Linked DNA regions of Homo sapiens: region 1 is linked to region 2. A link means that fine-mapping ties the variant in region 2 to the expression of a gene that starts in the linked region. Tissue or cell type: whole blood. Region 2 holds a variant in brackets; the other region holds the start of a gene. All regions are shown on one strand. Distances are from middle to middle. Region 1 holds the start of CMKLR1 (chemerin chemokine-like receptor 1). Region 2 overlaps CMKLR1 (chemerin chemokine-like receptor 1).

The links. PIP is the estimated chance that this variant, and not a neighbour inherited with it, causes the effect.
Region 1: CMKLR1 starts here. The variant in region 2 is fine-mapped to the expression of CMKLR1 in whole blood (TOPMed, PIP above 0.99). The same link has a PIP of 0.9 or more in monocytes.

Annotation. Positions count from the first base shown.
Region 1 is chr12:108,334,600-108,342,925 of GRCh38, forward strand. CMKLR1 (chemerin chemokine-like receptor 1) reads right to left here and starts at 4,712. Exons shown (of 4, transcript NM_001142343.2): 1 at 4,428-4,712. RefSeq lists an enhancer at 4,145-4,768 and a silencer at 4,876-4,995.
Region 2 is chr12:108,309,442-108,317,767 of GRCh38, forward strand. All of the region lies in intron 2 of CMKLR1 (chemerin chemokine-like receptor 1), which reads right to left. Among named protein-coding and RNA genes, the nearest start is that of CMKLR1, 26 kb to the right of the region's middle. RefSeq lists silencers at 6,691-6,985, 7,091-7,385 and an enhancer at 7,101-7,619. The variant G/A (reference allele first, on the strand shown) is at 4,365.

The DNA.
Region 1 (8,326 bases), 25 kb after region 2:
CAGCCCTGGGGGAGCCCAGCCCAAGGAAAATCCCGACTCTAACCACACCATGTACACGTACATGAACACCAACATTCAAATGTGCAGTGGGGCCCTAGGACAGGAATAAGATGTTTTTCGTTCAAATCCCATTCTTTTGCTATGAGCTGTGTGACCTTAGGCAAGTCCCTTTAGCTCTCTGAGCCTCATTTTATTCACCTATAAAATGGGGATGATAGTCCTGAGGCCTTTCCATGTAGGCTTGTAGGGAGATTCAAGTAGATAATGGATATAAATACCTTTGGCTTAATAACCCGCAGCATGTTCTATCAAACCATTATTCTTATTTCCTTTTTCCAGGGGGAAAAGAGAATGGCAGTTGCCTATGTTTCAGAAAAATCCATGTTTAGGGGCCTGGAGTCTGGAAATTTACTTAGTATATTTGATGGGAATTACCTTGAGGATAGGTGATGTTGTGAGTCCAACATCACCATGTTAACTAAGATTGACTAATGGAAATGTAGACTTAGAATCAAAGAATGGAAGCAACCCAAGAGGTCACCACATTTGTGACAGAGACAGGTAGCTGTCCACAAAAATTCATTCTCCCTGTCCACAATACACGACTGTGGCTGGGAAAGAGCTGCTCTTTGCCAAGAACCTCATATCCTTGTAACTCCATGTCCTGGCCTCCTTTGCAACTAGATTGGCCACATGATAGTTCTCATGTGAGTGGAAGTCATGTCTGCTGCTTCCAGGCCAAAGCAGATAAGCAAATATGCCACCTCCATACTTTCTTTTGTCTTGTGCACCTGGCTGCAGACAATGAGGATATCTGAGGAGAGAGTGGGACCACCAGATGAGTCACTGAAGTACCATGAGGAAGAGGACCACCCTCCATTCAGAAATACTTGCCTTATAATAAAGCTCTGCTTTGCTTCAGCCCTTATGCCTTTGGGGACCTATTTGTTACTGCAGCTACTACCCTAGCTGATATACCATTCGACCTCCTTATTTACAGATGAAATTATTGTGGCCAAAGAGTAAGAGTGCCTTGCCAAGGTCACACAGTAAGCTCAACAAATGTCTAGAACTTTGGTCTCTTAACTCCTTGGAGTAGAGGAGTTGCAGTTTCCTGCCTGCCCCATGGAGCTACAAAGATTCTTAGAGGCCCTTCAGCAACAAGAGTGAGATTTAGTGGCAGCCTGGAGTCTTCCACCTCTGTTTCAACAAGAATAACACCACCTTTATCTGTTTTCAAATTACACTTCCCCATAAGACTTTCATTTGTGGAAAGGATTCTGCAACTGAAAATAATTTCAAAGCCTCCATGCTGGGGGATTGCTAACACGATCTGACTTTCTGTGGTACTATAAGACAAAGTTTCGCTTCTTCTCTGCCAAACCTTCTGGCCTCAACTGCTGACACGGAACATGTGGATTCACAGAAGTACATGAATATTTGCTTAGAAGGGAAAAAAGAAACCTTATTGTGCAGCAAAGAACCCAAGACCCCAGTGTGAACAAAGGGCAAAAAGGAAAGACTTTTAAGCACTCTAGGTTGGTAGTTCTCAAGTTTTGGGGTGCATCTGAATGACCTGGGGTGCTGGTTCAACATGCAGACACTGAAGCCTCATCCACAGAGATTCTGATTTCCAAACTGAAGCTTTAAGAAACACTCACAATTGGCCGGGCGCAGTGGCTCACGCCTGTAATCCCAGCACTTTTGGAGGCCGAGGTGGGTGGATCACAAGGTCAGGAGATTGAGACCATCCTGGCTAATACGGTGAAACCCCGTCTCTACTAAAAATACAAAAAATTAGCCGGGCGGGGTGGTGGGTGCCTGTAGTCGCAGCTACTTGGGAGGCTGAGGCAGGAGAATGGCGTGAACCCGGGAGGCAGAGCTTGCAGTGAGCCAAGATTGCGCCACTGTACTCCAGCCTGGGCGACAGAGCGAGACTCCATCTCCAGGAAAAAAAAAAAAAAGAAACACTCACAATTATTCTAATGCAGGTGGTCTAGAGATTGCACTTTGAGAAGCTCTGAGTCTACTTCATAGCCTCGCAACTGGCGGTAATGTCTGCACCCATGTGGTGTAGCTCAAAGAGAATGAAATAAGCTTTTGGTTTTCTTGTACATCAGTGGGAATAAGAGCATTAATAATCCACTAAAGAAATCAATAATAATTTCCATTTGGCTCAGATGAGTGTCACAGGTATAGACAGGCACAGTGGAATAGAAATGATCATCAGAACAATAGCTAATGTTTATAGAGACCTTATTTTACAACAAATCCTCTGCTTACAGCTTTACTTGTATGATCTCATTTACTCTTTAGAATAATCTTATGAGGCAGTTACTGATCATATTCCCATTTTATAGATGAGGAAACTCAGGCACAAAGATGAGGAATAACTGATTCCATGTCACTCAGTTGGCAGGTGGCAGGCCAATTCAAGCCCACCCCCAGAGTGATAATAATATCAAATAATATCATCCTTATTTACAGATGATATTATTGTGGCCAGAGAGTGGGAGTACCTTGCCTAAGACCAAGGTGCCCCTTCTTGCACAATGTTCTACTCCCTTTTGTGGGGAGGTCTAGCATCAGAACTCTCCAGGCTTCTGTTTCCTAATCTGTAAAATGGGCATGTTAATAGTACCTTCATCATGTGGCCATGGTGAGGATTTGATAAAATCATCTCGAGAAAGTGGTTTGCAAACTGAGAGGAGTTATTAGGTAAACATCTAAGAGATGGGACTTCAGTCCAACTTCCCCCACCCCATTTTACAGATGGTGAAACTGACACCTGGTTACTTTATTTATTCCATGAACAATGACCCTAATATATGCTAGTTCTTGTGCAGGGGACTGAGGATGCAGAAAAAAAGTAATATCCCAGATCTGGCCTCTAGGGGCCTCCCGGCTAGAAGGAGAGACAGACAAGATGACTGGTCATTAGAACACGGTGTGGTAGGAGCCGTGATAAGGGAGGGATAGGCCCTGGGAGAGCCTAGCAGACAAGCCCTGACCCAGTGCGGGTAGGGGACTTCTCAGAACAAGTCAAGCCAGAGAAAGGCATGACTTGCCCAAAGTTAAGGTTATCTGTTCCCTGAAGTTTTGGGGGAGTCCAAAGAAGGCCCCTGTGCATCAAGAGATAACTCTCCTGTGGACCTCCCAAGTGTATGACACATCATCATTTGAGTGCCACTGGTTTAGGTTAAAGAAAAGGCCAAGCTGCCTCCTCCTGCACCAGAGGCCTGAATGACCCAGTCACACTCACCTCAGCAGCCAAGGCATTTAGAGGAATCTTACCTTCAAACCAGTTTGGAAGGGGCAGGAGATACAGCAAGAACCACAGAGAAGATTGGTCTTGAGAAGGAGGTAGGGGATGCAAAAGGGAAGTTGAGGGCTTTCCCTAATAGAAAAAGAAAGACTCAGAACCTGGACGTTCAGGCGTGTGACCTCAGACCAGTGATCTGGCATCTCTGAACCGCACAGGTCTGAGTGATTGGGCTTATATCAAGTAGTAGTTCCCTGATGTTGTAATGCTTATAATTTTGCCAAAGCTGGCTTGCCCATTTAAAATGGGCTATTCTGAAGACAGAGGAGGGAGTGGAATATTTTCAACAGAGAGTGCCGGCAAAGGTTTTGTGTCCTTTATATACAAAGAACCCTTAGATATCAATTGGAAAAAGATAAACATGCCCCCAGAGGAGAAAAAAATGGGAACAGACTTGAACAGGAGAGTCAGACTAGAAATGTGAAAAATAAGTTTATAAAAGAGAATCAACACTAACAAAGAAATGAAATGCCTATTGAAGCATCTAGATATTATTCTCGACTTCACATCAGGGAAAGTTTAAGGGATGGGTAGCAACAAGGTGGGTTTAGTATGTGAGAATACTGTGCCCTGGTATAACATCGTAGAGAGGTCAAGCTGCCACGGCCTTCCAGGGTGCAGTGTGACCAAAAGCTCAGAAGTCTTAAAAATAGGCAAACCTTAAATCTAGCAATTTCTAAAAGGTATTCATAAGACACACACACAAAGATGTCATACTAAATATTCATTGCAGCACTGTTCTAATAAAAAAAAAGAAGCAAATCTATTATGGAAAAGTCAAATAATCTTAAGATAGCCTTTCTATGCAGCCATGAAAAATGTATATTGGAAGAATATAGGTGATATGGAAAAAAGTTCACAATCTGTGGTTAAGCAGGTTACCAAACTAGATGTGGAAATCCACATTCATATATTTAGTTGTGTATCCTTGCTATTTCTTTAAACAATGAACATGCATTACTTTTGACATCTGAAAATAATAACAAAACTCTTCCTTTTAACAAATATGAAATTATAAAAAGAAACAAACTTTTCTCTCTGTTAGTATTCATTCCCCTTCCCTGGCCCCCCTCAGAAGACACCCAAGGCAAGTGTGTGATGATACCTTCCCTCTGGTCTCTGCCCGGAAGGTCTTCCTGAGGGTTCCCTGTGACTGCAGGCCACTCGAGGCTGTTGGGGAGACTTGCACACCCTGGCTTCTTTCTGCCAATCACAGGCTCCTCTGGCTGTGGCTGTTTGCCCAGAAAGCAGTTCATTCATTTGTTCATTCAAGATCCCCCTCTGAACCCCCAGAGCGCCGCAGCTGGAACACCCCTATCACCCGGAGGCTTCCCAGGGAGCCTGCTCTGTCCTGAGCTCCCTGCTGGCCGCCGGGGCTGCTTCCCTGAATGGGACTGGGACAGAACTCAGCCAGAGAAACAGCTGGAGGGAGGAGAGCAGGAGGGAGGGGCAGGAAACTGGGCTGACCTAGGGCGGGGGCGGCTAGCTGCGTGGAGAGGGGGCTGCGAGGGGAGGGTGCCCCTACCAGCCGGGGACTGGGCTTGTGGGTGGCGGCGGGGGCCCGCTGGGGACGACCCGCCCCTCTGGCAGCCTCTTGCAGCCGGGGAGCCGTGCCCACTGAGCGCAAACAGGGAGCACATCTGAGCACCCGGCTGCTGGGGGAAGTGCAAGCGCCTCTGCTCCCGGTGAGGGGCTCAAGCTCCACACTGACCGAGAGATTGGCTGCCTCTCACCCTGGGCCTTTGCAACGCTGTTCCTCCCACCTGGATGCTATTCCTGCCCTAATTCGTGGCCCGATGGTCTCCTACTGCCTCTTCAGGTCTCAGGTTGAAGGTCACCTCCCAGGGAAGCCTTCCCCAACCCTCGGGGGCTGCTGTGCCCCTCAGGGTCACCCCATCACCTCACTGATGCAGTGCTGTCCTTGCCTGTTAAGATGTCTCTCTCCTTGCACCGAGAACTCCTTGCACCAGGAACTCTGTAGGGAAAGAACTGTATTCTGTTCCCTGCCCTAACCAGGCGCTAAGTGCCTGGTTCATCGGCTGTGTGGTCACCATCATTAGTGGAATAATCAAAACAACCGACAGCCAGGCAGCGTGCTAGGCGATGCGTACTTACTCTTCACGGCAACCCTAGATAACAGGAATTATTACTACTCCAGTCTTACCAATAAGGAAACTGGGGTACAGAGAGATTAAGTCACTTGCTCAAGACCACACCGCCAGCAGCTGACAGAGCTGGGATTCCAACTATGTTGTCTGGCTCGGAGGCCCACCCTTGGCCTCCAGACTGAAGAAATAACAGAAGTGCCCATGTGGGCCCCTGTGCCAAGTGCTTCCATGGAGTAAGCCGTGTGAACCACCACCCACGTCGGGGGGGCATCACTTGCCCATTCTACACATGAGGATGCTAGGGCCACAGAGCAGAAGTCGTTTTGCCCAGGGCGCCAAGCTCATGCTGACCGAGCCATGGCTGGATCTGAGTCTGTCTGATTCCAAAGCCAAGACTGCCTACGACTGCCTAAAATAATATTTTTAGAAAGAAAAAGAAAAGGGAAGGGCAGGGGAGGGGAAGAGAGGGGAAGGGAGGAGAAGAAAGAAAGGAAGAAAAGGGAGGGCAGGGAGGAAGGTAATGGGGAGGAGGGGAAGGTGAAGGGAGAGGGAGATGGGGAGGGAGGGAGAGAAGGAGAGAAACCTGTGTTTTGGGCCTCAAAGTCTTGGGCAGGTGGAGGACTATGTCCTCATCGTCTGATCAGCCTTAGAACCCCACCGACCTCTCCCCACCATCCTCAATCCTTTAATTCAGTGAGCTTTACACTTAGAAACCATCTAATTTCATTCTTCCATTTCACAGATAACTTGAAGCCCAGAGAGATTGAGTCTCTTGCCTGAGGTCACACAGGTCTCTATAGTCAGAAGTCAGGCCCAGTCTACCCAACTGTCTTCCTTGCTCTCTTCTTCTTTGGGCTTATCTAGGGAACAAAACATCATATCGAAACACTTACTGTACAGATGAGAACACTGAACCCAGAGGAGGCAAGGGACTCACCCAAGGTCACCCAGAAGTTAGTAATTGTATTGGTCCGTTCTCACACTGCTGTGAAGAAATACCCAAGACTGGGTAATTTATAAAGAAAAAAGGTTTAATTGACTCACATTTTCGCATAGCAGGGGAGGCCTCAGGAAACTTACAATCATGATGGAAGGTACCTCTTCACAGGGTGGCAGGAGAGACAATGAGTGCCAGGCAAAGGGGGAAGCCTCTTATAAAACCATCAGATTTCATGAGAACTCACTCACTATCATGAGAACAGGATGGGGGGAAAACCACCCCCATGTTCAATTACCTCCCACCTGGTCCCTCCCATGACTCGTGAGGATTATGGAATTCCAATTCAAGATGAGATTTGGGTCGGGACACAAAGCCAAATCATGTCATTCCCCAGGTTCTCCTGGTGAAAGGAGAGGATATTTCCATAACGTGGCAGGGATCTTGTATATCACCATCTAATAGAGACCAGAGGTTCCTAAAGTCTAGTTTCCATACCAACCCCAGCAGCCTCACCCAGAAGTTTGTTAGAAACACAAACCCTTGGGCCTCACTGCAGACCTTGGCAATCAGAGACTCCAGGAAGCCATCTGGGTTTTAAGAAGCCCTCCAGGGGATTCTGATGCTTGCTCAAGTTTGAGATCCACTGACATAGGCATTTCAATTAGGAATCCATTGAAATGGGCCCTGGAACAAGTCACCTTGCCAATGCACAGAATAGTGGCTAAGAACAGAGGCTTTGATAGCAGACGGACCTGGTTTGAATTCCTGTCGCTGTCACTGTAAGCTGTGTGACTTGGGCAAGGCCTTTCACCTTTGGAGTCTCAGTTTCCTCATCTGCTGTGGACAGTGGAAGAGGAAGAGGAGGAAGAGGGAAAGGGAGGAGGGAGAGGAAAAGAGGAGGAGGGAAAAAGGAGAGGAGGAGGAGGGAAAGAGGAGAGGAGGAGGAGGAAAAAGGAGGGGCCAAGTAGAGGAGAGGGGAGGGGGAGGAGGAGGAGGGAAAGGGAGGAGGGATATGAAAAGAGGAGGAGGGAAGAGGAGCGGAGGAGGAGGGAAGAGAAAGAAAGGGGAGGAGGAGAGGGTGGGGGAGGAGGAGACGAGGAGGAGGGAGTAAGGAGGAGGAGGGAAAGGGAGGAAGGAGATGAAAAGAGGAGGAGGAAGGAGGAAGAGAGGAGGAGGAGGGAAGAGGAGGGGTCAAGGGGAGGAGAGGGGAGAGGGAGGAGGAGAAGAGGGGGAGGGGGTAAGGAGGAGGAGGGAAAGGGAGGAGGGAGATGAAAAGAGGAAAAAGAGGGAAGAGGAGAGGAGGAGGGAAGAGGAAGAAAGGGGAGGAGGGGGTCAGAAGGAGGAAGGGGGAAAGAGAAGAAGGGGAGGAAAGGGAGATAAAGGAGAGGGGAGGAGAAGAAGGAGTGGGGGAGAGGAGGGAGAGTGGGAGAGAAGAGAAGGAGGCCAGAAGGCAGCCTTCGAGGAAGATCAAGCACACGGGTACTATGGAAGAGGAGCTGGGTAAATCCAGCCCGGGGATGGACTCCTGGACATGCCTCTTCCTCCCTGGAGGTGGCTGTGGCTGTGGCATGCCTCCCTCTGCCTCTGGCCTCCCAGCCAAACCTAAGCTCGGGTCTCATCAGCTAGGAGCCACAACTGGCAGAGCAAGGACACTGGTCCCCCAGCCAGCTGGGTCCCTGGGTGGCTGGCAGAGGAGGTGGGAACCCACAGCCCCACTGGGCCAGTGAGGAAGGCGTGGGGCTGCCTGGCTTATGACTCTCCACCTGGTGGCTGTGGGACAATCTGAAGCCACGGGCCTTTGGCCATCCCTTTTGAACAGGGCTGAACAGTTTGGCTTTTCTTTCTTGGAGCAAAAAGTGTTTGTTGTTGCTTGTGGGGGTTTTTATGCTTTTGTTTTAAAGAGGATTTTGAAATCTAAGGGCTGACCTGGGGATACTGGGACTTGAGAGAGAAGCA
Region 2 (8,326 bases):
GGAGGATCGCTTGAGCCCAGCAGCTTAGGGCTGCAGTGAGCTATGATTGCACCACTACACTCCAACCTGGGTGACAGGGTGAGACCTCCATCTCCAAAAAAAAAAAAAGCCAGTAGTGGGCAACGTCTAAGGGTCACACTCCTTGCCAAATGCTGTGGGAGTAAGATGGCCCAGTCACTACCTTCATGCAGAGAAAGTGGTTGCAGGAACAGATCGTGGCACAGTCAGTATTCTGAGATGTCACCTAAATTCCAGGCTTCCAGCAAACTGGCCATGCTGGGCTTGCATTACAGAACAGGGGTTATCCACAGTCCCCACCCCTCCCTATTGTTCCCTGGGGTAATAAGCCAGTTGCAATTTGCCATTGAGTTTGTCCAGGGTCTCTGCTGTGGCAGAAATAAGTGCAATCCAGTGAGAGAAAGAGGAACCAAGTCATTCTCATTTTCAGCTTTCATAGGAGAGCACGTATGTCTTTGTGGACATGAAAAATGTTCATAAATGGGTCATTTGGGTCTCCTGCCTGGCCCTGTTGGTCACTGAGTGTGTGGCCCTGGCTCTGCACAAAGTAAAGAGAAAGGGCTGGGGAAATCAGGGGATGCTTCCTGGAGGAGGTGGCATTTGAGCTGAGCCTTGGAGGGTATGAAGCCTTTGCCAGGTGGAGCAGCCGAGGGAAATGACATACCTGCAGAGGAACAGAGGCTTGAAAAAGTGTGGTTAGGGGCTGTGTGTGTGTGTGTGTGTGTGTGTGTGTGTGTGTTAGGGGAGGGGAGAAGGCAGGAGATGTGGCTAAGGAAAGAAGAGGGTTTCAGATTGTGAGATCCCTGCAAGCCATCAACTTTATCCTATGGGCAATAGGGAGCCATGGATGGTTTTAAGCAGAGGGTATCATCCTTCTAAAAAGATTCCAGCTTCTAACCTGGGTGGCTGATGTGGGCACTGCGTTGGAAGAGGAAAGGCTGGAGGCAGGAGAATAGCAAGAGGCCTGGTGAACTGAGGATCCTTCTGCCAGTTCCAGGCCTACCCAGAAAGTGCAGTTTTTGGAGGCTCCAGGCATCAGGATGTCCCATCAGAGAGCCAGGAAGCCAAGCAATCTCTTTATTTTTCTTAAGGATTTTTCCTCAGCCCACAGGGACTGGTTTGCTTCCAGAGCCATTTCCATGGCAACCACCAATGCTCCAAGAAAGGTCTTGAGTGAGCGGAGGAGTGAGGACCAGAGATACTCAGATGGGTCTTCACGGGAAAAGCCAGGTCACAGAGAAGGGCCCATACTGTCCAGTCCTGGGGGCTGGGAGCCATCTTCCCCCGGAGTCCATGATGCCACAGATAAGCTATGGTTGCCATGGTAACACCGAGTCCCCCATCCCCGGGCCTCATGGACCCAGGGCCTTTCAGCAAGGCGGGTAGGCAGAGACAGGAGGGAGGCAGTGCTGAGGGGCAGCCAGAACCTGCAGCTCACCAGGGAGGCACATCCCAGGACACGTGTGTGAGGCAGGTAAGTTCGAAGACCGCCCCCCCACCCCCCGCCCAGGAGATGAGCAGGGTGCAGATGAAGGAGCAGTCAGCAGTCTCTGGGGTCTGGTGCTGGGGTTCTGGAAAGGCATCCCCCACTGCAAATTGATGCCAGATACACACTGCTGCTATGCCTTCAATTCCACCATCAGGGTCCTGCTTTCAACTTTTCCCCAGTGAACTGAAGTCAATGTCGTGATGACGATGGAGAAGCAGAGGCCCACACACAAAGGAGGTTTTTGGCCACAGTTATACAGCAAAATGGCGTCAGGACTGGGGCTCAGATGCCAAAACCATTCCTACTATGTCAGATCCAGTTAGTGGTTGACATGAATGTGTGTATGTGTGCGTGTGAGATATTAACACTTAAAAGTGCTAGGGAGACTGGGCACAGTGGCTCATGCCTGTAATCCCAGCACTTTGGGAGGCTGAGGCGGGAGGGTCACTTATAGCCAGGAGTACAACACCAGCTTGGGCATCATAGAGAGACCCTGCCTCTAGGGGAAAAAATTTTAATTTAAAAATTTAGCCAAGTGTGGTGACACACACCTTTTAGTCCCAGCTACTCAGGAGGCTAAGGTGGGAGGCTCGCTTGAGCCCAGGAAGTCGAGGCTGCAGTGAGCTATGATTGCACCACTGCGCTCCAGCCTGGGTGACAGAGCAAGACTTTGCCTCCTAAAAAGAAAAAAAGTGCCAGGGAAAGGACGCTAAGGGGAAAAGGCAGCATAGAGGGGGAGAGCTGGTGGAGGCAAGAGGCAACAGGAGGAAGGGTGGGCCACTGAGCATGGGCATTAGCCTCCCTTCCCCTTGGACAACCCAAGTGAAGTCAGCGACCCCTGACCCAGGACAGGGCTGCAGGACTCATGGGAAGCCCCAGGCTGGGGGCACGGAAGGACTGCTGGGGGGACCTCAGAGGCCAAGTCCTTCCAAACCAACCTGCTCCCTGTGCTTAAGGAGCCCAGTACCCCGAGCATGGTTCAAAGCACCTGGGCCTCTGCTCTTGCAGGTCCCTCTGCCTGGGGTGTGCTTTCCACAAGCATCCCCTTGCTTCTCCCAGCCTCATGTGCACAAATCCAGGCAGAGCAAACAGCAAGGTGACAAGAGGAAAGAGACCCATCCTGTTACGTGCCAGGCACCTAGCTGTGAGCTTGACACCCCCTCATCTCCTTGTGTCCTGACAATCCATCTTCCCCCTGGCCTGAGGACATTACCTCCATTTCACAGATGTTGAAACTGAGGCTGTAAAAGGAACCAGATCAGGATCGCCAGCCAGTGCCCAGTGGAACCAGGACTTGAACTCAGATCTGTGAGAACTCAAAGCATCTATGCCCTTATCACAGCATTTCCAAGCATCGTGGATGGGCTGACAGGCCCCTTTCATCACAAGACTGTGAAACGTGTCCAGGCAGCATTCCTTCCTCTCCCTAGGACTTCCCTTACAGCCTACCAGCACGGCTTCTCCATGGGGAAGAGCCCTCACCCACTGCCTGTCACAGGGTCCTGGGGTGCAGCTATGGGGTGAGAGGAACCAAAACTGAGAGTCTGGGGCTCATGGAATCCACCCCCTGCTTATTAGGCACAGACGGCATACTCAGTGCCTCCACTCACAACAAACCTTCGAGGTAGATATTTTCATTCCCATTTTTCAGATGTGGAAATCAAGCCATAGAGAAGCAAGGGCACTGGCCCAAGATCTCACAGTAGGAAGGGGCAGAGGAGAGATCTGAATCTGCACTGCCTGACTCTGGAGTCCAGGTCTTCAGTGACGGTCACTGTCCTTTATGTTCTGTGGCTTGCCTGCTGCACACGGGGCCCTGTGATCTCATATCAGTTGTCCCCACCTGTGCAACTTCCGCACCTTGCACATTCACAATGCTACCTCACTGACTTGGGGTACTTAGAGACTCCAAATCACCCCCCTCTGCACAGTCTCCACAGGCTGGCCAGACTCCCAGGGCAGGGAGTCTGTAGAGGCCTGTCCAGCCACATGGAGCTTTGAAAAATCCCAGAGCCCTGAGCTGCCCCAGGGTCCTCCTGCCTAGGCTGCCAGCCACGAGCACAGAGGCCTTGGAGTGCTCAGGCAGGCTCTGGCCCCTTGGAATTCCCTGGCTCCAGCCCAAGCAGCTGACAAATGGACTGGCACCACTGCCAGCAATCAGGACGGTGGAGTATGAGATCCCACCCTGTTCCCAGGCACAGGGAAGGAGGGGCAGGCTGCCCTTCCTTTTGACCCTGTCACCAGGCTGTCACCTCTCCCAAGGCAAAGCCCAAGCCTTGACCTAGGAGGGGTCTTGCTGGAAAAATTGCCCCCCACCCTACCCCACCCCACCTTCCATGGAAAACAAAAAGCTGCTCGAAGACCAGAGGAAATTCTAGAATCCTAAAAGTCATTGCTAGAGAGGCTTTAGGATCAAGGGGTCTCACACCCTCATCTTACAGGAAAAGGGAAGTGGCTCAGTGCAGCTGACAGCTTAAGCCTCACTCAGTTACAGCAAATCCACATGTGAATCCCAGCTTGGCCCTTCCCATGCTATGTAATCTTGGATTACTAAATCACAGACTCCTCGTCTGTAAAGGGGGTCAATGTAAAGATTTCATGAGATCATATACGTAGGGTGCATAGGGTGACCAGTTGTCCTGGTTTGCCAGAAACCAAGGGGTGTCCTGGGATGCAGAATGTAAAGTGCTCAAACTGGAATGTCCCAGCCAATCAGGGCCCGCTGGTCACTCTATGAACATGAAGAGACTGGCTCAAACAAACATGCCCTTTGGCTGTTATGTTTAAAGAGAGCTATGTCTGGAGTCAGCTATCAGTGAGTTTGAAACCCCCACCAGTAGAACTTCTAGAAAGACTT[G/A]TCAAGTCATTGGAAAGCTCTTCCTTTTTTTCACTACACTGACCTTGAGCAAACTGCCACATTCGTGTCAGTGTTGGTTTAGGCCCCTGGAGTCACACAGGACAAGCCAGCCACCTCCCTCCCCAGGCAGCAGCCACTTCCTCCCTTTAATCTCCGCCAGCACTTCCTCTGCATCATTCTTAACCCTTTGCCAGCCGACCCCCACCAGGCCAACTGAGCTGCTCTCCTGGGTTGGGGAGGGGTGCCACAATATGGTTTTGCTTGCAGGTTTGTCGATTTTTTATTTTTGTTCACTTAATTATTGGCGTGATGCAGCTGTGGATGGTGGGAGGTTCAAAAGAGGCTCACTTATACAGGGAACATAAATTAAAGTAAAAGAAGGAAGGGAAACATGTGTAGAGACAGAAAATGGAGTCACGGCTAAGGGTGAAATGCAGGGGACACAGAAGTTCCTAGACACTGACAGTGGCTGGACCATACACTGGAACCCCAGCTTCCTGAAAGGGGGACCCAGTTACATGAGTCACATGCTCCTTGCTAAAAACCAAACCCACTCAGGGGAATAGTAAGGCTTCCTGATGCTAGGAGCAGAAGGACTGTCTCCAGAAGCCTGTGGAGAGAAGACATGGGGGATCTGATCACGGAACGGGGTCTCCAGTTCCTGAATGTTTTAAGGGAGGCTCCAAACACTCACTGATGGACAGCACTGCCCCAAACTGCAATTCAGTAAAAGCTGCTTTTCCTAGATATGACTGTGAGTTTCAGTCTACACATCCAGGTGTATGCACTGCTGGTGTAATCCAAAGAATTTTCTAGAATATCTGAGAAGGGGCCTGAACCGTGGCCTTTAAGTCATTCTCCCTGATGTTTTTTCAGAACTGAAGCTTTGGTAGCAGTAGCAGTGATAAGTGGGACACTACTCTTTCTTTTTTCCCCCTCCCTTTTTAAAATTTTATTATTTTAATTTTTGGAGATGAGGTCTTGCTATATTGCCCAAGCTGGTCTTGAATTTCTGGCCTCAAGCTATCCTCCCACTTTGCTTCCCAAAGTGCTGGGCTTACCATCATGTTCCATCATGCCCAGCCCGAGGGACATCATTCTCTATGGCCCAGGCTCGAACACAGCCTTGTTTTTTTTTTTTTTTTTTTTGAGACGGAGTTTTGCTCTTGTTGCCCAGGCTGGAGTGCAATGGCGCAATCTCAGCTCACCGCAATATCCACCTCCCAGGTTCAATCGATTCTCCTGCTTCAGCCTCCCAAGTAGCTGAGATTACAGGCATGCGCCACCACACCTGGCTGATTTTGTATTTTTAGCAGTGATGGGGTTTCTCCATGTTGGTCAGGCTGGTCTCAGGTGATCCACCTGCCTCGGCCTCCCAAAGTGCTGGGATTACAGGTGTGAGCCACTGCACCCAGCCCAAACACAGTCTTTCTCCACACCAGCTGGGGGTGGGCCTGGGGCATCCTTATACTCACCTATCTGTGAACATATTTTATGAAACAGACAATCATGACAAAGACATACTTGATACACAGGTAGAGTGACCCTCCATCCTGGCTTGCCCACAACAATCCCTGTTTATGCTTCTTGTCATGTTCCTTTCATTCTCAAAGTGCCCCAGTCAGGACAATAAATCCTACAGTTTCCCTACTCATAGATTACTCCCTCCTCTGGCCTAGAAGCTCCTGTGTACTAGCCTTGCCCACCTACTTGTGCCAGGCCCTAAGCTAAGCACACGTCCTGTGTCATTAAATTCCCATAAGGGTCCTGTGAGGCAGGTACCACCATGATCCCCATTTGACAGATGAGAAAATGGAGGCTCAGAAAGGCTGTGGCTGCTGTTTCAGGAGGTAGCCATGTGCCAGGAACTTTCCAGGATTTAAACACCAGCTGGTTCTGCACAGATGGCTACTTTCACTACCTCTATTTTCCAGATGCAAAGACTGAGCCTTAGTTCACTGATAAAAGGGTGGCTTACCAAAGCCCCTATGGTTTCAGCCAGGAAAGGACCACAGAATGTCCAAATTTCAGAGTCAGCTTCCTTCAATCCGGGCTCATGAGCTGTGGGTCCCTGGGCAAGTGACATGGCCTCTCTGAGCCTTGATTTATCTCATTGGTAAAATGAAGATGAATCTTGCTGCTTACTGTTGGGTGAGTGAGGAGCAGACGCAGGACCAGCACTTGGACCCTGCGCCTCAGCCCAGCTCTTACAGCTCTAAGAGGAGGGGATGTGTTCCCCCCAGGAAGTTCATAATCCTCAGCAGAAACAGTGCATACTTCATGGAGTCACTGCAAAATGAAAATGCAGCCCCTTATTCAAAAATTACTGAGAATTCAGGACAGCAACTGCCAAGTGTTAAACAAAGCACAGGCCTTCTGAGCCCTGTGTGGCTGCACTGGTCGCCAGCCTGAGATGCTGGCCCTGCCCCTCAGCTCTAGGGAATTTGAGGGAAGAGCCCTCTTCACTTCAGGCCCCAGCAGGGCAGGGGCTCGGCGGGATAGGTGATCTTAGGAGGGAGGAAGAAGCAGCACAGCCAAGAAAGAGCAGAGAGAACAGAGGATGACACCTCCTCAACGTAGACAGAAAGAGAGGGGGAAGAGGGGCAGGGAGAGGAAAGCCAGCAGGAAGAGGAGAGACGCACAGGGACTGGAAAAAGGAGGACAGAGCGGTCAGGGCAAAGCAGCAAAGTGGCAGAAGAAAGACGAAGGCAGGGTGAAGAAAGTCCCCAGGAAGAGAGACCCAGAGGCAAGAAGAAAGGGACAAGGCTAAAAGGAGTCTTCTGCCAACCTCTGAGAAGGTTTAACAAGACCCCATGGAGCCACCCGGTGTGGGCAGGGAGGGGCCCCATGAATAGCTGTCCTCCTGGGGTGAGGGCCATTTGCTATTGCATTTGCATACATTTAAAAGCACAGGAAAGGCAGTGCTGGGGATTTCCAAAATCCCCAAAGATCAGGGAGCTACGGGCAAGGTGTCAACCCCATAGCAGAAATGGGTGGGGCTTTTGCTTTGGGATGGAAAGCCACAGGCACCGGTTGGAACCGCCAGTGGGAGCTCAATCACAGCTCACTGCAGCCTCAACCTCCCTGGGCTCAAGTGATCCTCCCACTTCAGCCTCCTGAGTAGCTAGGACTACTACAGGCATACACCACCACACCCCACTAATTTTTTTTGTATTTTGTAGAGATGGGGTTTCGCCATGTTGGCCAAGCTGGTCTCCAACTCCTGGACTCAAGTGATCCACCCACCTCAGCCTTCCAAAGGGCTGGGAATACAGGCATGAGCCACTGTACCCAGCCTCAATGTCATTGGTTGATTTTAACAGGAAAAGGTGTGATTTAACACACAGCCTGTTTGGTGGTGGGCTGGAGGCAGTGTTTGGGAAGGTCCTGGCAGACACAAGATGAGCTGAAAGCCATCCCAAGCAGTTCTCTTCATTGAGCATGGGTTTCAGTCATTATGTGCTCTAGAGGTTCTCTTCATCCATGGTTATTAGTGTCAAGGAGAGCCCACAAGAACGCATTGTTTTCCCTACAAACATTTCACCAAGAGCTTGGAATGAAATGGCAGGTCCACTATGAGACATAGGTATTGACTACCCATGGCCTCAGGAGGCCACCAGGAGTGCATCACGGTCATGAGGATGATGTGGACACTGGAGGGAGGGGTGGGCTCTGTGTAAACCCCACAGGACTCTCTCAGCTGGTTCAAAGTGGGCCAAAGGTGGCCTCATTCTGACATCAAGGAAAGCCGTAGTCAGCTGGGCAATAAATCCAGCTAGTTTGAAAACTCCAAATGTGCTTATGTCACAATCAAGGAGAAAATAGGAATGAAAACCACGGGCCTTAGAATTTACAACACACATACTATTCACATAATAACACTGTTAGCCTAACAGCCATCCATCCACAATTCTAATAGGCTTTTTGAATTTAAATTGCTGACCAGGCATCACAACTCCTTC